4 separate regions of the Homo sapiens genome follow, and all the other regions are linked to region 3. Evidence: fine-mapped expression QTL. A gene starts in region 3. Each other region holds a variant in brackets. All regions are shown on one strand. Distances are between the middles of the regions.

Evidence for each region. PIP is the estimated chance that this variant, and not a neighbour inherited with it, causes the effect. A credible set is the group of variants that fine-mapping cannot tell apart.
Region 1: its variant is the best candidate, but not a certain one, in a credible set for the expression of PCNX1 in whole blood (GTEx, PIP 0.56).
Region 2: its variant is the best candidate, but not a certain one, in a credible set for the expression of PCNX1 in adrenal gland (GTEx, PIP 0.81).
Region 4: its variant is the best candidate, but not a certain one, in a credible set for the expression of PCNX1 in sigmoid colon (GTEx, PIP 0.78).

Annotation. Positions count from the first base shown.
Region 1 is chr14:71,133,013-71,138,335 of GRCh38, reverse strand. No RefSeq gene overlaps it. Among named protein-coding and RNA genes, the nearest start is that of SIPA1L1, 180 kb to the left of the region's middle. The variant G/A (reference allele first, on the strand shown) is at 2,827.
Region 2 is chr14:70,926,267-70,931,589 of GRCh38, reverse strand. The region is part of intron 1 of PCNX1 (pecanex 1); the gene reads right to left. Among named protein-coding and RNA genes, the nearest start is that of PCNX1, 21 kb to the right of the region's middle. The variant G/A (reference allele first, on the strand shown) is at 2,537.
Region 3 is chr14:70,904,706-70,910,028 of GRCh38, reverse strand. PCNX1 (pecanex 1) reads right to left here and starts at 2,570. Exons shown (of 36, transcript NM_014982.3): 1 at 2,026-2,570. The coding sequence starts at 2,178. RefSeq lists silencers at 1,418-1,757, 1,918-2,257, 2,478-2,667.
Region 4 is chr14:71,884,496-71,889,818 of GRCh38, reverse strand. It overlaps a transcript of RGS6 not described here. Among named protein-coding and RNA genes, the nearest start is that of RGS6, 45 kb to the left of the region's middle. The variant G/A (reference allele first, on the strand shown) is at 2,897.

The DNA.
Region 1 (5,323 bases), 230 kb before region 3:
GCCATGTGCCATTCGGCCACTCAAATTTTCCTTTATGATGAGATGCTCATTCCCCTTGACTGCACAAAGTTAAGTCCCTCCCCAGGGATTTCCCTCCATCCAAAGGAAACTGATTCACCCAAGGTTAAAGCTCCTCCTGGGGGTAGCCCACATCCTATAACTAATCAATGTTGGCGGGGTGGCCCCAGCCCCTGTACCTCAAATCCAGACAACTCTGAAGGACCATCAGAGACCCAGAACTTCCTATGGGATTGGCTGAGGCCTCTGTGGTGACTGCATTGCAGTTCAGCTTCTCCCTCTGGCCAAAGTGCTTCCTTCACTCCTCACAGGTTGAGGGCTATGGTTGCACTGGAGAAAGACAGCAAAAGGCCAAGGGCAGTTACTCTTTGCGAGGACAAAGTGTTGAAGTCCAACAGGCCTCCTTGGTAGCATATAAAGAGATCCTGATCTTCTTCAACCAGAGGGCAGAAGCAGCTGAGGCTCAGAAGTGAATGGAGCTCCAGAGAAGACTGGACTCTCCATTTAGATGAGTCCACTATGCCAAGGCCCCAGCTGGGAGGGAGACTTGAGATGGGAATCATGGCAGCTCTAGAGCTATCTGTGAGATTGGCTGAAGCCTCTGTCATAACTGCATCACAGTTCAACTTGAGGTTCTTGAAACCCCAGGTCCTCCAAACACTGGCCTGCAGATGTGACCCATACCCCTCTGCTTGAAGACAACTCAAAGACTCCTCATGCCTTTCATAACTTATCCCCACCTCCCTGCGTGGCTAAAAGCTACAGTCAAGCCACAACACAACCAGGCCAGGAATGTACTGGGTCCCTTGAGGGAGAAGGAGACTATACATCAAAGACGCTATAGGGCCTAGCCAGCATGTACTGGCAGAAGCAGAGAGGATATTTATGGGGTGGGATCTGGAGGGCACTGAATCTAGAGAAATAGAATATAAAGTTGGATAATAGAGAGTTTATTAATATGAGGACATTCTTCTATGATACAAGATGAATATCCTGCTGATATGGACAGGAGACAGGGAAATACTGGGTAGAAGAGGGCAGTTCCCTGGCAAAGGTCCCACCTTCAAGCCTGGATACCCATGGCCCTAAATGGGAACAGGCATTCCTGTTTTCATGTTCAAAAGTTGCCTTTTAGCCTGCCACACCCGTTTATCCTGTACCCATATAAACCCCAAACCCCCAGCTCCAGGAGTAGATGAGCAGATGAACAGAAGAGCAGCAGAGAAGGAGAGAAGAGAAGGAACATTGGGAGGAGTTCAGCTGGGGACCGCTGGAGAGGAAATCAGCCTCAGGACAGCCAAACTCCAGGAGAAGATCACCTTCCTACTTCATCCCCTTTCCAGCTCCCCATCCATCCCACTGACAGCCACCTCCACCACCCAATAAAACCCCCACATTCACCATCCTCCAAGTCTGTGTGTCACCTGATTCAGGACACTGGACAAGAGCTCAAGATACAGAAAGCTGTCACACTGGCCCTCTGCCCTTGTGAAAAGGCAGAGAGTCTACTAAGCTGTTTAACACTTAAGCCATTGGTGGATGGCAAAGCTAAAAGAGCGCACTGTAACACATGCCCACTTGGGCTTCAGGGGTCACAGGCGCCCACCCCTAGATGCTGCTGTGGGGCCACAGCCCAGAAACACTCGCCCCAGCTCCTGCACCTGCCTGTCTGTGTGCTCCCCCTCCCATAAGGGGTTTGAGCAGCGGCTGTGGCCAAACAGACAAGCCACACCCCTGTTGCACGTCCTGCGAGGGGGGGTCAGAGAACTCTCCCGTGTCACTGTCAAAGCTCCTATATGCAAATATGCTGCTAGGTTGATTCCTAGAAGCTGGGAAAAAGCACTAGCCCATACTAAGTGAAGTAGCACTGTCAGAATTGCCATGGCAAGTGATAGAGAAAGGGACCGAAGGCCCAGAGAAGTGGGCTTGATAAAACAGGCATTTTATATAAGGTGAGAAAACCCACCAGCCAATTACCTTCCATGGGATGGAGGCCTAGAAAGAATACTTTGACTAGTAAAGTGATCAAAAATGTGTTGATGAGAGGGGCACCAGCATTATTGAAGAAGCTCAGTGGTGGCTGTCCTTTGTAGACCAGGGCTGAGAATAGCAGATGCTCTTATAGAACTCGCTTTCCCTATAGCCACGGGATGATGGGGTTTCAAATTAACAGAGGCCAGGAAGCGCGTGGCATCAGAAACCAGGTGTATGTAATTACTGTAATAAGGAACAAGGGGTGGCAGTCACAGCAGCCTGGCCCAGACAGAATATGACAATTGTTAATAGAACATGGCACTCTGAAGGTCAAGATAGATATGTGGGCAGCCACCAAGGGTCTCACTCAATCTGCACAATCAAGGAGGCTGAGGGAGGCACTCTCATAAAAAGTCACAATCTGTTGTCTAGTTTCTGGACCTGGGCCAGTTTTCAGACCTAGAACTTGGTAGCTGAAAGAAGAGCTGGGCCCTCAGCAGAAACTTGCAACGCCACAGCAATGTATATGGTATGATTACCTTTATTTAGCCTTCCCCACAGGACCTGTGGGCCAAGGGCAATACCCAGAAACTTTGAGGACTGGTTGGACACAGACACAAGGCCTGAGCTAATTGATATTGGACACCCAAGCCACCACCAGGGAGAATGGAGGGTGAGGAGGCCCTATGGGGAGCAGCTAAGAAGGTCCTGGTGCAGGTCTCGCAGTGGGCTCACTGGGTCATAGAACTGTCCCATGGTTATTTCCCATTAAGCATATAAGCAGAATGGACATATTTGGCAGTTAGGTGAACCAACTAGTTAGTCAACCACATT[G/A]AGGAAGGCCAAGTGGAAATCTATGAAATTTCTCCCCACTTCCAGTCAAGATGGTAAATCACCAACAATACTATTAATATATCCTGTGGGGACTAGAAGAGACTTAAAGGAGAGGGTTGGTGGCCTCCATATTCCAACTGAATCACTAGTCATCCAACTGCCCAACAGGTGCACATTGCCCGCTGCCTAGACAGAGCCAATTTATCAAGACGGCAATTGCAACGGAGAAAGAGTAATTCACACAGAGCTGTGTGGGAGACTGGAGTTTTATTATTACTCAAATCAGTCTCTCCGAGCATTTGGGGATCAGAGTTTTTTAAGATGATTTGGCAGGTAGGGTCTCAGGAAGTGGGGAGTGCTGATTGGTCAGGTTGGAGATGGAATCATAGGGGGTGGAAGTAAGTTTTTCCTGCTGTCTTCTGTTTCTGGGTGGGATGGCAGAAATGGCTGAGCCAGATTACTGGTCTGGGTGATGTCAGCTGATCCAGGGAGCACAGGGTCTGCCAAATACCTCAAGCACTGATCTTAGGTTTTACAATAGTGATGTTATCCTCAGGAGCAATTTGGGGAGGCTCAGACTCTTGCAGCCAGAGGCTGCATGACCCCTAAACCGTAATTTCTAATCTTGTAGCTGGTTTGTTAGTCCGATAAAGGCAGACTGGTCCCTAGGCAAGAGGTAGGTTTTTTAGGGGAAAGGCTAGTATCAATTTTGTTTCAGAGTCAAATCATAAACTAAATTCCTTCCCAGGATTAGCTTAGTCTATGCCCAGGAATGAACAAGGACAGCTTAAAGGTTAGAAGCAAGATGGAATCAGTTGGGTCTGATCTCTTTCACTGTCATAATTTCCTCAGTTATAATTTTTGCAAAGGTGGGTTTCAGTCAGGCCCTGCAAAAAGCATACAAATGTGGTATATTTCCTAGAGCAAATTAACAGTGTATCAGGTACCTGGCATACAGCCAATCTGGCAAGTGTATTCTTATCCACCCCTGTAGAAAATGAGGACCAGAAGTAGTTTGCATTCGTGAGGTGAATAACCCTATGCATTAACATGACCTTGCCCCAAGGTTATGTTAATTCTCTGCCCTCTGTCAAAAGATAGTCTGAAGAAAGCTGAACCTTCTGGACATGCTGCAGAACATTACATTCATCCATGACATTGATGACATTATGTCGATCAGACTGGATGAGCAAGAATTGGGAAGTCTGGTGGAGATAAACGCTATCAAGACTCAGGAGCCTGCTGGGACATTGTCTTCAAAATAAAGGACTCAAAAGGAATCACATGTCCTATACAATCAACCTGGGTTCTGAGGTCAGCATAGTCCATTCATGGGAACATTATTCTGGCCCATTTGCCAAGACACATGGAAAGCTACCAGCATTGAGTGGGACCCAGGGGAGAAAATAGCTCCACAGCCAGTCCAGGGTGTGATATAAGCAGTCTTGTCACTTGGTCCATACAATCTGGTATTCAAATTATCTGTGATTGAGAAAAAATGCTATATAGAGTTTATGGTAAACCTAACTGGAGAATCACAATGTAGACCCATAGGGTTCTGAAGTAAGGCAACAGAGAACTATATGCTACGGTTTATATATTTGCAACAGAGAACTACATACTATTTGGAAACAGCTCCTGGTTTGCCCCTGGGGTTTGGTAAAGAGTATTTGATCACACAACTTGTCAGACACTCAGCCACATGTCTGAGGGGGCCTAGTAGGAATCCATCCTGAGATTGAAGTGGTACAGAGGGCCTACGCAGACTGTATGAGCAGGTGGTGCAGACCCTCCCGTGTCATTCACTACTGTCACAGAAGAACTTTTCCTCAGCTCACGCAGATGGCCGATGGGGTGAGGGGTGAATCCCTTACAACCAACTGATGGAGGAGGAAAAAAGCCAAGTTTGGCTCAAGATGGGTTGGTTCAATACGTATCTGCAAACCATTAACGGACTACTGCAGCCATACAGCCCCGTGCTGGTGGTCCTTTAAGACAGTAATGAGGGAAATCATTGCAAGGCAAACATCAGGCTATGAGGTCATCCACGTTATGTGGAAAGAGAGCAGAGGCCAGAAAAAAACATGGAGTCACGGGAATAGCAAATGGCTTGGCTAGTTGGTCAGGGGCCTAGGAGAAAGAAAAGACTGGGGACAGGGGTAGAGGCACATGGACGGATCTCTAGGAGTGGGCATGGAATGTAAAGATTTTTGAGTGCAAGTTAACGCTCACCAGAGAGCATCTGCTGTGGAGGAGGCACTCAAAAACCAAGTAGTCCAAATCATTGGTAGTAGTCCAACCAAGTAGTAGTCTAGTTGACATCAGCCATCTTCTTCAATGGCCACTCCTGTGCTGGCAAAATTGGGTGCATGAGAGGAATAGCTATGGTGGCAGCATGGAAAACGTGTAAAAAGATTCCATTCACCAAGAGTGATCTAGCTACTTACTGATGCTGCCAAATATTTAACTTGAGTGCAACAGAAAGCAATGCTGAGCC
Region 2 (5,323 bases), 22 kb before region 3:
AGAATTTGAAAGCAGTATGCCTTATGCCCTAGACATGGGGAAAACACACAAACGGGCACACTAATCCTATCGTAAATTGTAAGTTCCATCCATCAGTATATCTGGACTAACTTTTCTTAACACTCTTTCAGGAGATGAAAACTAAACATTTGTAACAATAGCAGTGCTGCCTTCTTTCTACTGTCTGCCTAAAAATCAGTCCATCCTATGGCTGTTTACATTGTGGGCAAATTACTAATGGGAAAAAGAATTAACCATTTTTTTGTAAAGCTCTTAAGATGGCCAATTGGCCTCAAGTTTTAGCTTTTTTACTGGTATGCCTGAAGGGGTGGGGAGTTGGGAACACCTCTACTTACTCACAATGATAGAAAAACCCCCTTTGGCTTTTTCCCAAAGAAAATGGGCAAGTTAATTCCTGCAGTGTTTGCAATTCAGTTCCATAGCTCTCCCACCTTTCATTCTTGGTGGATGGAGAGAATGCTGGTGAGAAGGGAGAAAGAAGGGTTTAGTACTCAAATATTACCTATAAATTTAGAAAATGTTAATTAAGAGGGATCAGAAAGAATATGAATGTTTTTAATAAGGCTTACAGTTTTCCATATATAAGCTGCCCCCCAAAGGACTCAGAAAAGGCCCTGATATCAATGGCCATGGCTCCAGGGATTTAGCCCTCTTGCCACAGTCTCCTTTGGGGATTGAGGTAAAGCATTCCAGTTAGAAGTCTCCTTTCAGAGGATGGAGCTGCAGAGGAAAAGGAGAAAAGTACTCTCAATGTTGAGATTCAGGCATACTTTCCCAAAGGAAAAAAAAAAACATAATATTCTACTGAGCTAACTACACAGGGCCAAACTAATTTCAGAGGGCCAGCTGGGAACCTGTGTACAAACTCACAGTGCATTTTCCCCAAAGGCAACTGGTTTACAAGTGAGCTATTGGAACTTGAGCCTACCTGTATTTCTGCAAATGTCTGCTACATAAATATTTTAATATAAATAGAATTAAAAATAATAGATATTATCTTTTTTAAAAATCTGTATCTATCTTTTAAAAATCTGTTTGTCACTCCATAACCTACATTTGAATTAATATTTATATTTTTAGCTACAATAGAATGCTGTTCTTAGGGAGGTAACAGTCAAAATTTATGCCACATCACCTAGCTGAAAAGAGACTAAAATAACATAGCACATGCAACTCATCGGCAACAGAGATTGAGTCTATTACTCAGGGCAGAAGTCACTAAGCCAGGAGTTAGAGATGAGCAGCTTGATCCATATGAAGCCAGGTACAGTGACATTCGCCTGTAGCCCCAGCTCTTTGGAAGGCTGAGGTGGTAGGACTGCTTGAGCCCAAAAGTTCAAGGCTGCAGTGTCCTATGACTGTACCTGTGAGCAGCCACTGCACTCCAGCCTAGGCAACATAGGGAGACCCTGTCCCTTAAAAACACACAAACACATACACACATACACACACACAACATATGCACAGGCACACACACATGCATGAGAAGAAAGGGCACAGACATGAAAAATAAGGGATGAAGAAAAAAACCCAACAAATAAATGTGAGGATGTATACTGATGGACTAAAATAATCTTATGTACATTATAGAATTTTTCCTATACTTTTATTTAAAGAAAGAAAATCATTTATACAATTTGAATCTATAAATTCTGGTGAAAGTCAATGTCCTCATAATTAAAATGTTACGTATATCCTTTCTACTCTATTTCATGAAATGATTTTGTCCAATTTATTCACATATTTTTAGCAACAGAAGTTTCTTCATCACAGAAGTCATTATGAGTTACCTAACACAGGTTTACATAGCACATCTACATCATCATTTCAGTATAAGTTTGAGTTCTAACACTTTCTGTATGATGCTGTTCCTAGGAATTCTGTGTAACCAAATGTCCATTTGTACTTAATTAGGACAACTTTTCTTTTTTTCACTCATCACATAAGTACATATTCTTATCTCCATAAGCTACTTTTTAACTTAATCCAACAAGTGTTAATGACATCCAACACTTGCAAATTATTAAGTTATAACCCTAGTAACAGTTATGATTAGCTATGCTAAATTTTAAAAAACTGTTTAAAAATCAAGTCATGTTGCTACAAACACACACAAGAAAAACAACTGGATGAAAAACAGTAACTGGGCAAGTGGAAAGTAATACAAAAGACTTTGTAATAAGTCAGATAATATAATTCCTTCTTGGCTGAGGGATACTTTTGGGTCAGGGGGCACCTAGCCTAATAATCAAATATATATAGTCATATGGTAGACTAGAGATAGAATGCTTCAAAACAAGAGCAAGACGGTAAGAGGGGAAAAAAAAAAACACTGAATGTACAGCAGAGCTTTCCCCGAGTTTCCAAAAGCATCTTTAGATCACTGTAGAGAACAAAAGAAATAATAATTTTCATGTAATCCCAAAAGGGTATCCAAACAATTCCTATCTAGAAGCATTTGTTAAAGATAGCACACTTTGAAATTTTTCAAAAATGAAGGTAACAAAGAGGCCCC[G/A]GAATAGAACATACCCAACAATCTAAACTTTATAGATAGAAATGGTGATTCACAAAAACCTTTTACAAAACTAACTCATCCTATCCTATGTGTTGAAATGGTTTTCTGATGAGATTAAGGTACCTATTCCCAAACCATCAAGTAGCAGCAAGCCAAAAGTGTAACGGTTTTAAAAACTGCTATGTCTGAGAATTATAACTGGTTATTAAAATAAAGCAGAAAGGTAGAGGTATGTATGCATATTAAAGAAATAGTCTGGTACAGATTTGTCTCCCAGTATTATCCGGATGGTATCATCTGGAGACTGCATGCCATTCTTTACCCCAAAATTCCCAAAGTAAAAACTGAAAGAATGGCTATATAGGAATATAACTTGAGAGGCACTAACAATGTTTTGATTTATATGTGATTTTCTTAGTAAACCTAACCATTCTGGAAAAAGGAAAAGGTGCCCTACACTAAGAACTATCTTCATTAATATTTCCTTTTGTAAATTAGTAACAATATTTTACTGTATAAATCACTCTTTTATTTATCAGTCTAAGTAAATCCCACAGTAAATTGATAAACACTGAATTTCTAAATGGTAAATATGAGGACCAAAGCTGTCTCATGGCAAGTCCAACTTAAATAGCTTTACCTATCCTGTTTCTCCCATTTGTTCCTGATATATTCTATTGCAACATTTTTTCAGGATTCACAATTAAGTAAAAGTAAGCATTCATTAACAAATTCTGTCAACATGACACTGCAATTCTGAAGAATAGCAGCTAGGTTATTGTTTTAACATACCTCACAAAATGCCAGTTCAGGATACATTTAATGGGATTACCTTATGAGCAAATACATTAAAAACAATGAGATTCTCCTTGCTCCTATATAAAAGTATAACTATATTCTTATAGACGTAGTATAATAAGCAAGCACAAAATAATAACAGTAACTCAAATTTAAAGCTTTTAAGAATCAAAATAATTCAATAATGAAAGTATTAGGTCAAAGGAAGAGTCAAACTATGAGAATTAAGTAAAAATAAATATTTTAAAATGAAATATTAATATATACAAAAATTAGATCAAAAATTATTTTGCTTATATTCTTTTCTGTTTCACTAACATTTAGTAGAAGAAACCGCAAGCTGAATTCTAACACAAGAATGAAAATCAGGCCTGGCGCAGTGGCTCACACCTGTAATGCCAGCACTTTGGGAGGCCAAGGTGGGAGGATCACTTGAGGTCATGAGTTTGAGACCAGTCTGGCCAACATGGTGAAACTGTCTCTACTAAAAATATAAAAATTAGCGAGACTTGGTGGTGCACGCCTGTAATCTCAATTACTAGGGAGCCTGAGGCAGGAGAATCGCTTGAACCTGGGAGGCAGAGGTTGCAGTGAGCCAAGATCGCACCACTGCACTCCAGCCTGGGCAAGAGAGTGAGACACTGCCTCCCAGAAAAAAATAAATAAATAAATAAATAAATAAAAGAGAGAGAATGAAAATCAATAAGATATATAAACTGTAAAAAGTATATTAGCTCTCATAAGAGCATTACCAGAACCCAAATATCATTTCCATCACACTTGCCCTGAGCTCAATTTGCTTGAAACAGAATGATACTATTGCATGCTGTATAATCCATTTCTACCTTTAAACAGAAGTACTACAATTACGCACATTTAACATACTATATTTAAGGTGAAGTAAATGTGAAAGATGCCTAACAGAAAAAAATTTAAAAACGTAGAAGAGCATATCCTACTACCACCATAAAGGCAACTAAGACACACTTACAGAACAGGAGCTTGATCCATTCATGCAACAATTTACTGAACACCTATTAAGTCTCAGATATTCTACTAAGGAATGTTAATACGGAAATAAACATGATCCTTTCTCTCTTTGAGCTTCTTAGGAGAATGACAAATTTAGTGTTTTACCAAGCACTACATACACTGGATTATATTGCCACAATCCTTTGAAGAAAGTACTGTTATTATCTTAATTTTAAAGGAGAAAACTGAGGCCATGAAGTCATATGCCCACAGCTGGTAAGCGGCAGAAAGTGAAGCGATACCCAGTCTGACTCCACAGCCTGCATTTTTAAGCACTAAACTATACTGTCTCCCTCCAATGCAGTGTTTCTCACCCATTTTCTTCATTATTGTCCTCCTAAGTAGCCTTTTCAGACATTCTTTTCCTCATCACGCTCCCTGTGAAATTTTAATACCAGATACACTGCACACTTGTTTGTGCTGCATGTACATCTGTACTTTATATGTAAAAAGAATAAGATTTTTTTTTCACACATGCATCCCTCAAGAGTTAATTTCTGCCCCCTTGAGGGTAACACCACACCCACTGAGAACATAAACTCTGGGGCAATGTTCCTCGCTGTGGGCACCGTTGACACTTAAAGCCAGACAATCCTTTGGTGTGGGGCGCTGTCATGTGCATTATAGGAGGTTTAAAATCCCCTTGGTTTCTACCCACTAGAGGCCTACAGCACTGCTGTTTCAAGTTAGGTTAAAATCTCCCAAAAGAGGTTTACATTCCTTGAAACATGCAGCCAATTGGCAGCAAGTGCTTCTCTTGCTGCTATTTACATATTCATAAGGGCTACAGTACAAATTTTGTTCATATTGAACTGGAATGGGCAGGATATACACAGACTGTAAATGCTGCATCTCTGTAGCGAGAGTGAAGGAGCAGGTGAGACGGCAGGGGCAATGGCAAGAGAGTATCTGATATAAGCACAGCAAGGAAAGAACCCCACATTAGACCAGTAAGTG
Region 3 (5,323 bases):
GAGTCGTCGTCTAGTTAGGTTTTGAAGATACAGCCCCTATTGCTCATAAGCAATAAGTGGCTGAGAACTCTAAAACCAGCAGTCATGCTAACCGCATGTACTGAACTTTGGAAGTTCATTTCTCAAGGCTCTCCATCTTATTATCCATTTCAGGTAAAGGTCTGAACTGATTAAGAACAGCTCAGCACCTTCTGGTTTGGGAAGAGTGGGACTGCCATTAATTGAGATAAGGAAGTCAGAAGCAATCTCAGAAAGTGTCTAGTACATGGTAGACACTCAAATATGTGAGAATTCAGTTTAACTGAACTCCCAAAATGAAGGAAGTAAACTCAATGTCCTGGTTTCCATTTGCTCTAATATTCTTTCAGTAACATTTGCTAACTACACAAAGAGACTTAACCATGACCACACAGTTTACTACAAGTGTTAAAAAAGAAATCTTACACTGGACCCAGCAACTAATCCTTACCTCTCAAAAATCATTTTCAGTTTTAAATCTACAATTCTTCTGGACATAGAAGAAATTTGCTTTGAAAATTTTGTGACAGCCTGAGGATTCTTAAACCCAAAGTAATTAACCCGTTCATTAATGATGTCATATTCCTGGAAGGTATAGTAGTGCAAATAGAACTCCCTAGGCCAAAATTAATTGAAAATTATAATACTTCACGATAAATTTTCAGAATGCAACAAGACTGAACAAGTCCCCCTAATAAAACAAGCCACAAGCCATCAGCATTTCTTAATGGCTTTTTTTTTTAACCTCAAACAATAAGTCCCTTCAAAACAATTTCAACGAAAAATGTGAATCTGCTTGAGAATGTGCACATCTTCCCTCAAGCAGACACTTTTCCTGCCAATTAGTGAAACTGAACTTCACTTAGGGAAGAATTGGGTGTCCTCACCTTTTGCACTTCTCATAGTGGTCCTCCGGGATTTTCTAACTCAGCACCCTGTCTCTAGCTCCACAAAGAACCTCAAAGTTAGCAGAAATACATTCAAAGGAATTCTCCTAAAATAAAAAGTTCAGATCCTTTCCTCCCCTCTGACTACTTTAAAATTTTATATGAAGCCTTAAGTAACATCTCTGTCCACACGAGTTTCCCTAACGCCCCACCCTAACCTGTGCTTTAGAAACTGCGCTTAACAACTTTCAATGTTGCTTTAAAAACACAGATGATTCAGAGAAGCTGATCGCACCGAATTCAGCAACAGGCAGTACTCTCTCTCCCTACTCCTATCCGCCAAAGGCCTTGAACCAAGCCAAACAAATCTGCTGAAATGCCAGCCAGATTCCCCGTTATCTCCCCGCTCCCTCCCCCCAGGGAGGCCAGGAAGCACCACGGCCACCGGCCACGGGGCCGAACAGAGAAGAACCGCTGCGAAGCACAACAACGGTTTTTTAGAGGCAGGAGGGTTCCGAGCCGGGTTTTCAGCCACCACCCAGGACCCCTGGAGGACGAGCCCGGACGACCCCCACACACACTCGGAGCAGAGCCGCACGGTCCCCCGCGCTCCCGGGGCTCCGCACGCGGATTAGCGGCGAGGCGGCGGGCGGCCTCTCCCGGGAGCCCCGGACGAGGGCCGCGGCGGGGGCGGGCAGTGCCGGATGCCGGGCGCCCGAGGAACCCAGCGTGCCAAGGATGGATGCGGCGTCCCCTAAAGCCGCAGAGCGCTCGGCGCCTGCCACACAGCCCCACGGGCGGGGGGCCCCGGCGGGGACGGCCTAGCCGAGTGGCCGCAGGAGGGAACCCCGAGAAGGGGCCTAGGACGCTGCCGCTTCCCAGTGAGCGGGCGGGGGCGGCCGGCGCGGGTTGCCGTGGGCTCGTTGCTCGTGTCACCTCCGAAACCAGGAAAGCCCCGAAGAGAGGAGTGGGAGCACGCAGTGGGGGCGGGGAGCCTCACACCGAGAGGGTGGCGGCCCCCGGGGGACGAGACCCCGTGGAAGAGGAAGAGGGCGCGACCCCAGCATCTCCCCACCGGCTCGCGGGGAAGGAGCCACCCGCTCCCCGCCCCCACACTCACCATGTAGAGGGTGAAGGGCAGGCCCAGCAGAAAGAGCCACAGGTAGAGGTGCAGCGCGTTCACGAAGGTGGCCTGGTGCGGGTCGTAGTACCAGCCCCCGCTGAGCGCGGCCCACACCCCCTGTCGGAGGATCTGCAGCGTCTGCGACCCCATCCCCACCCGGCGCCGCCGCCGTCGCCGCCGCCGCCGCCGCCGTCCCCGCCCCGGCCCCAGCTCGGCCTCGGTCGCCGGAGCCTGCAGCTGCCCCGTCTATCCACCTCCGGAGCTCCGGGTGAGCGAGCCGGCGCTTCGGCGGTCGCTGGTGCTGCTGCAGGAGGAGGAGGAGGCAGCAAACGAGGAGGAGGAGACCCGAGAGGAGGAGGCGGCGAGCGGCGGGGCGGAGGACGGCGGAGAGGAGGAGACCGGCCTTCTGAGAGCCGCCGCCATCTTGTCTCCTAACACCCGGAGCCGCGGCCCGGCCCCCGCCACCCGCGGCCCGCCAGCGCCCCCACTGCCGCCGCCGCGACCCCCGCCGGCCGCCAGCCCTGGGCCAGGCAGAGAAAGAGGCCCGGCGCCAGGGAGCGACCGAGAGGAAGCCGCGCCCCCTCCAGCTCCTCCTCTCCGCTCCCTCCGCCCCCTGGGCCGGCTACGGTGCGCGCCGCGCCTGGTCCGCCGCGGGCGCCTCCTGCCGACGTCCGGGAGAAGCGCGCGTCAACGCGGCCGGGGTTCAGGGCCCCGGGGGCTGCGGAGGTGGCTGAGACGCGGCTGGCTGGTCCGGAGGACCCCATTCTGCCCCTGGTAGGCCCCCTGGCAAGTTCGCCTACGAGTCTCTAAACGGGGTCTTTCTGACTCCGAAACTAACAGATCTTGACTCCAGAAAAGCGTCCTGCCTGTCATTTATGATATTTGTGAAAGACCTAGGAACAACTGAAGCTAACACCTGAGATACTGAAGGCCTGGAAGAGTTAGGTACGGCTGATGACACTGTTGAAAAGTCATAAACGCACCCAAGTTGAGCAAGAACTGTGTTGGCCCGTGTGTGAGAAAAAATAGCCACGTCCAGACTGGGAGAATTTACTACTTCCAAAGACAAGTTAATAGAAGCGGCACAGGACATGGAAGTATGGAGTGGACAGGTTACCATTTGTACGCGGTGATTGTATTTTTAAATGTGCTGTAACTAGCAGCCATTTTTATTAATGGGCCAATCTAAACAGGGTTGAAAAAGATTAACCGTGACGCCACCCCAAATTACAATAGGGTCTTGTAGATCTCTTTTTATAGCTGTAAAAACGGAATCATTCTTGGCTCTGTGTAATGTTTATAAGGCGTGTCTGATCTCACTGAATAAAATTTTATAGAAAAGTTTGAAATTTGAGTTTATTGAAGTTTGGCTTTTATGGCAATAAAAGTACTGTGTATTCCCAGATTACAGTTGCTATAATTAATGAGGGAAACAAGAGCCAAAGGAAACTGGTGATATTTTAAGAAGAGTAATGAAAAACCGTTACAATACCTCCCAGTGCCATACCACTTTATAGTTGCTCAGACACTATCACACCCATTCCATTCAGACCTCAGGACAACCCTTTGAGGGCAGCATAGCAGCTATTGTTATTTTATGGATGAGAAAACCTGTAAACTCAAGTAAGTGATTGGCCAAATGCTTATGGCCACTTATTGCTCATAAGCAATAAGTGGTTGAGAACTCTAAAACCAGCAGTCATGCTAACTGCATGCACTGAACTTTGGAAGTTCATTTCTCAAGGCTCTCCACCTTATTATCCATTTCAGGTAAAAGTTTGAATTGATTAAGAACAGTTCAGCACCTTCTGGTTATCTGTGACCAGCTTAAATACATGACCAGTTTTCGTCAAAGTGCAAATTCTTAGGGCATCATTCTATAGACACTCTGTGGGGTGGTACCCAGCAATCTGTTTTAACAAGTCCTCCGGAGGATTCTAATGTAGCTTACCACTGTAGAACACCACACCATCCCTAGCCTTGATTTGTTTATGTCCTTATAACCACAAAGCCACTGAGTTCCAGTAAGATACCTTGAAATTGAGAGCTGTGAGTAAACACTGGACAAAATATACTTTAAAATATATTTGTATATCTAAAAGCAAAATTATGATTAAATAATGCAATTTTACAATTAAAATAGTGGCCTTGAAGCTGGTGTCATAGATACCAGCTATTGTCAAGTTTTCATTTGTTTCCCCTAAAGGAGACAGGAAAGCTCTCTGGGAAGGTTTTGGAAGTAATCCCAACCTTTCCAACACAAAGAAAGATGTAAACAAGGATAAAATTCCAATACCACATCAGTTTCCACAACAGCAAAGATCCGCTATGGTTTAATATAAAAGGATTAACTGTAATGAGGGTGAGGTGGATGGGGAGAAATGGAAACTAGAACCAGATACATCCGTGGAATCGGAGGCCAACCCAGCTGGCGTGATAAACGTTCAGCCAGAATGCAGTATCTGGAGGATATGGAACCGGCAGCAGGCCAGGAAGGCAGCCGGCATCAGGCCTGTTAAACAGAGAATGTGGGTGTTGTAAGCCAATGGACAGCTGGAACACATAGCCTTGGAAAATCCAGGAGTGGGCAAAAATTGGGAAATCACGGCAAGCCTTGAGAAAGTGTGTTGCTTATAGCAAGGCCCCAGCTTCAGTGCTGGGGTTTTCTAGGTCTGCCCTTTCGTTTCTACAGGGAATTGATGAAAACAAATAGAACTCAGATCCTTGAGCTACTGAGATACTCACTGGAGGCCCAAGTTTGAGGACCCAGCAGGACAAAACAAATATTCAAAGGCTGGATCTGGGGGGACAGAGTGAGACTTACAAACAAAGCAGGAGCCTAATACCTAGAACTAGGACCAAACTTCACACTGAGCATGGTTGCCTTATGTTGAAGTCCCAGAGTGTTAATATAAAGCTCTAGTTGCCCTCCAAAATGACTGGGATTGATCCCAGAACCTGAGGTGTGAGTCACATGGCAATAGCCATTGGGTGAAAAGGGGTTAGCAGGATTGGCAGGCCCAGAGAGTAGAAACAGCAGTTAGAGACTACATCTTTCAGCTCTGGACTGGTAGGAGCATTTTAGAAAAATACTAATTAACTGACTTAGGGAGTAGCAATTGAGAGTATCCAGTGAAAAAGCTGACCTTTCCAAATGACTGACTCAGTCATTGGGACGGGGTGGATGGGGGGGAATGAGGGGGCGGGGAGAAAGACAATCCTACAGCGCTCTCTGTAGCTCTCAAAATGTTTGTGAATACTGCCTGCCACAACAAGCTTCCTATTTTATAAACTA
Region 4 (5,323 bases), 980 kb before region 3:
TTAAACCATTCGTGAGACGCCTGCCCCCAAGATCCAGTCACCTCCCACCAGGCCCCACCTCCAACACTGAGGATTATAATACAACCTAAGATTTTGTGGGGACACAGATCATATCACTTGGCAAAACAACAACATAGAAAAGTTATCACCAGCCTCTTGCTTTTCCTTTCTGTACCTTACGCCCTGCAAAGTGCGTGCCCCAAGCTCTCCCCCAACTCAATTATCCCCTCTCTGACGAAGCAGTTGGTGTGACCCACTCAGTGAAGTGTCCTTATTAAGGGAGAGTTTCCACAACAGGACTTTTTCCAACTCCCCTTCTCCACCCTCCAGTTTCCCATTCTGTGAGTCCTAAAATCCCCCTTCGCTGACTCTCCATTGCATTTAGGGAAAAAAATCCACACTCCATTTCTCAGTATTTAAGAATATTCACAATTTAAGATCCTTATAGCTACATTTCTCACTCTTTTCTTCTCCAGACAAAGGCAGATATTCACTGCTTCTTCCTCGGTTGCTGTTGGTCACCATGTACTTCCCCGCAATCATATTTCTGTCTGTGCCTTGCCCCCAACCCAGAACGCCCTTCCTCCTACGTCAAACACACCAAAGTCCACCTTTATTTCAAGGCCCAGATCAAATCTGCCTACCTCCATGACATGTTCTCCTCTCCCCTGGACCACAGAGATCCTGCCCGCCTCTGAATTCTCCACCAATCATTTGGCCCTTACTCACACTGTGTCATTATTCATTTGTTTAGATTTTTCTTTCTCAATGGAAGGCCATGACAATATCATGCATCTTTGGTATCTCCAGTGAACCATGCCCAATCCTCAGCTTGTGTTAGATGACAATAATGCTATAGTTAAGAGACACCCTACATCAAAAACTCCTGACTTCATGCTCTTTTCAGGGATCCAATACATTTCAGTGTTTTATTGTAGTTTTCAATGATGTGATAATGCTTAAGAATAACACTAAGGATATATTTTTTAGCTCCTCAGCAACCCAAATGGAGAAGATATATTGAGTCAGCTCAGCTGACTCTTTAGACCAATGTAGGTCCTCTTGAACCTACTTGTTCCCATCATAGTCTGTATGTGCCTGTAATGAGGACAGAAGGCTGTGTACTTTCTCAAATTCCCTTGACCACCTATTTTTTTTTTTCTCTTGAATGAAATCCTACCTATGCCAAGCCACCCTTCTTCCACTGATGGACTTAGATAAAACACCCAGTCTCAGAGCATGAGATGTGACCAACCCAAGCAGGCCAGCTGACACAACCTGAAAGGGGAAAGAGGTTTGTTTCCTGTGGGATGAGCCTCAATCAATAGGAAGCAGGAGGGAGCAAGGCAGATAAATTCCCCCTTCTCTTTTTCTTCTTCTTCTTCTTTTTTTTTTTTTTTGAGACAGAGCTTTTGCTGTGTTGCCCAGGCTGGCATGCAATGACAGGGTCTCGGCTCACTGCAACCTCCACCTCCTGGGTTCAAGCAATTCTCCTGCCTTGTAGCTGGGATTACAGGTGCCCACCACCACACCTGGCTAATTTTTGTATTTTGTTTGTTTGTTTTGTTTTATTTTTGAGATGGAGTTTCACTCTTTTGCCCAGGCTGGAGTGCAGTGGCGCGATCTCAGCTCACTGCAACCTTCACCTTCCAGTTTCAAGTGATTCTCCTGCCTCAGTATTGGGGGAACCCACCCCCAATATTTCAACGTAGGTTCTTTCTATTTTCCATAAGTGTTGGCCAGCTGAGAAATAAAGAGAGACAGTATAAAGAGAGGAATTTTACAGCTGGGCCGCCGGGGGTGACGTCACATATCGGTAGGACCGTGATGCCCGCTTGAGTCTCAGACCAGCAAGTTTTTATTAAGGGTTTCAAAAGGGGAAGGGGTGTAAGAACAGTGAGTAGGTACAAAGATCACATGTTTCAAAGGGCAAAAAGCAGAACTACTAGTAAGGGTCTAACAAAGATCACATGCTTCTGAGGGAACAGGACAAAGGGCAAAAACAGAACTACTGATAAGGGTCCAACAAAGATCACAAGGCAAAGGGCAAAAACAGAACCACTGATAAGGGTCTATGTTCAGCAGTGCACACATTGTCTTGACAAACATCTTAAACAACAGAAAACAGGGTTTGAGAGCAGAGAACTGGTCTGACCACAAATTTACCAGGGCGGAGTTTTTCCCCACCCTAGTAAGCCTGAAGGTACTGCAGGAGACCAGGGCGTATCTCAGTCCTTATCTCAACTGCATAAAACAGACATTCCCAGAGCAGCCATTTATAGACCTCCCCCCAGGAATGCATTCCTTTCCCAGGGTATTAATATTAATATTCCTTGCTAGGAAAAGAATTTAGGGATATCTCTCCTACTTGCACGTCCACTTATAGGCTCTCTGCAAGAAGAAAAATATGGCTCTTTTTGCCTGACCCTGCAGGCAGTGTGACCTTATGGTTGTCTTCCCTTGTTCCCTAAAAATCGCTGTTATTCTGTTCTTTTACAAGGTGCGCTGACTTCATATTGTTCAAATACACATATTTTACAATCAATTTGTACAGTTAACACAATTATCACAGTGGTCCTGAGGTGACGTACATCCTCAGCTTACAAAGATAACAGGATTAAGAAATTAAAGTAAAGACAGGCATAAGAAATTATAAAAGTATTACTTGGGAACTGATAAACGTCCATGAAATCTTCACAATTTACGTTCCTCTGCTGCAGCTCCAGCTGGTCCCTCCGTTTGGGGTCCCTGACTTCCCGCAACACCTCAGCCTCCCAAGTAGCTAGGATTACAGGTGCCCACCAACATGCCTGACTAATTTTTGTATTTTTAGTAGAGATGGGGTTTCACCATGTTGGCCAGGCTGATCTTGAACTCCTGACCTCGTGATCCACCC[G/A]CCTCGGCCTCCCAAAGTACTGGGATTACAGGCGTGAGCCAACAGTTCTCAGCATCTCTTGCATTGAGGTGTCCCCGAGACTATGTTCTGGCAAAAGGTGGTATTAATATATGCAGGAAGAGCAATCTCTAACTGATATGCCCTTCCATAAGCCCTGGATTTCTTTCAAAACTTTGTCAAGATATACCTAGCAGCCTTCAAGTTATACCTAAATTATTTGCCTCCAAAACAAACCAACCAAATTAAAGATATACCTTGCAAACATGCAGTTCACCAAAATTACATGCTGATTGCTTTCATTTTCTACTAGGCTCTAACTGCTACAAAGGTGGGAGCTATGTTGGTCTTGTCCACTGCCTTAACCTCAGTGCCTAACTTCTGCCTGGTGTATGTATCCAAATACACCTTAGACAGAAGACTACTAAACGAAAAAACTCAAACACTGTATTACTGCTTACTTGGATTATCCATGATTAGAACACAACTCACTCATATATTCATTCATTCAGTCAGTCAATATTAATTGATTGCCTACTGTGCAATGTGCACAGTGACGTTAATTGAAGATCCTGCCAGGAATAAAACAAAGATGCTACTCTCAATGAGCTTACCTTTTAATGGGAGAGACAGACAATCAACTCTTAAACAGTAAGAGTTTCAGACAGTGATAAGTGTGATAAGGATGAAGCTACTTTACCTGGAGTGTTCCAAAAAGGCAATATTTAGGCTGAATTCACTGTCATCATATCAACAGGCCTCAACCTTAATCACTTCAGTCCAAAAATTTAAGTTCTGAGAACTAATTGTTTTCTAATGACAAGCAAGGGATGATATGATCAATTTCCCTTATTCAGATTTGGGATTACACGCATTTCTGAATAAAATAAAAGGAAGGGAAGCAAGGGAGAGAAGGAAAGGGAAGGGAATGGAGGGGAAGGGAAGGAGAGGGAAGGGAGGGAGAAAAAGAAAGAGAAAAAAGAGAAGGAGAGTGGGAGGGAGGGAAAGAAGAAAGAAGGAAAGAAGGAAGGAAGGAAGGAAAGAAAGAATTTTATCTCACTAGTATTAAACAGCTTTCCACTAGTATTAAACAGAGAGAGACACTATATGGGTGAAAGAGAAGGCCAAAGGACAGGGTCTTCTCTAAAAGTAGAGACAGCATTGGAAAGAATTGCTAGTATCCACAAGAACAGCCTTCCAACTTTCCTGTGTTCCAAAGAATGCACTGAACGCTGTATTATTAATTTTGCAGCCCTTGTTTATGTTTTAGACTCTCCAACAGCCTCAATCTTTATTCCTCAGATCCTCCTGGGGCTCTTTGATGTGATTCCTGAGCTCCCAAGTGAGCCCTCATCACATCCTAGGAGAACCACGGAGACATTCCCTTCATGCTCTGACCTCTCTCCACCACTCCAGCTCCACAAACAAAGCAAGCTGCCCTTTGAGAATTGGCTCTCCTAAGAGTTGAAGTGAAGAATACTTTTAATTTTTCAAATCCAGAGAGGGCTGTAATACTGCCCAGCTCAGGAATGCTAGAAATTAATGTCACATGTCTTTATACCATGAGTTAGCTTGGCAAATTTTGAAAGGAAAAAATGTTTTTAACTTGGCTATGTCGATGGAGTAGAAATGTTTGGTTTCCGTTTATTTTCTTCAGTGTTGTTTGTTTTCTTTAGTGTCGACGGAGTAGAAATGTTTAGGTTTTGTTTGTTTTGTTTAGTGTTGATTAAATGAAAATTTGTTTATAATTTAAATACCCTTGTCTCTTTCTGTAGGTGGGTTGGAAGAATGGACAGGGTTCAAGAGGGTAAAGGAAGCGTGGGTGAAGGCCTTCTCAGCCCAGCTGAGGGATATGCTAAGGGATGGCAATAGTATTGGACAGAAAGCTGCTACATTTGCAGTGCTGTCAGTTTCCAGAAAATGGGGATGGTGGAGGTCAGGACTAGCATGAGGCAAATGAGGCATTCAGGGCACAAAATTTCAGGAGGCAAAAAATTTAAGGAGGTGCTCAGGTGCCTGCCCTTATACCACAGGGAACGAAAGGGCCTCCTTAAATTGTATGCTCCAGGGCCCACTCTTACTGCATCCTAGTGCCTAGTTCTGGCCCCAGGGAAATGAGTTCTATTAGGATTTCAAGAAAGTCTGTGGATCCAGACATCAATTCTCTTAGTCATGACAAATGGGCATGCAAAGGTGGAAAACAGGATTGGTGAAGAGTTGACAGATTTACCACTAAAAAGGAATAGACCTCATTTTCCTGGCTAAGAAGAACAAAGTGTGTCTTGGCTTAGAAGACAGGATCACTTTCCCGAGACAAAAAGAGGTACAAGTTATAAAATCCACCCTTGACTCTTCTCCCTCTTACTCATGCTATTCTCCCTTTTCCACACCCAGCCCACTGCCAAATTAAAATAATAAACATGTAAAGTT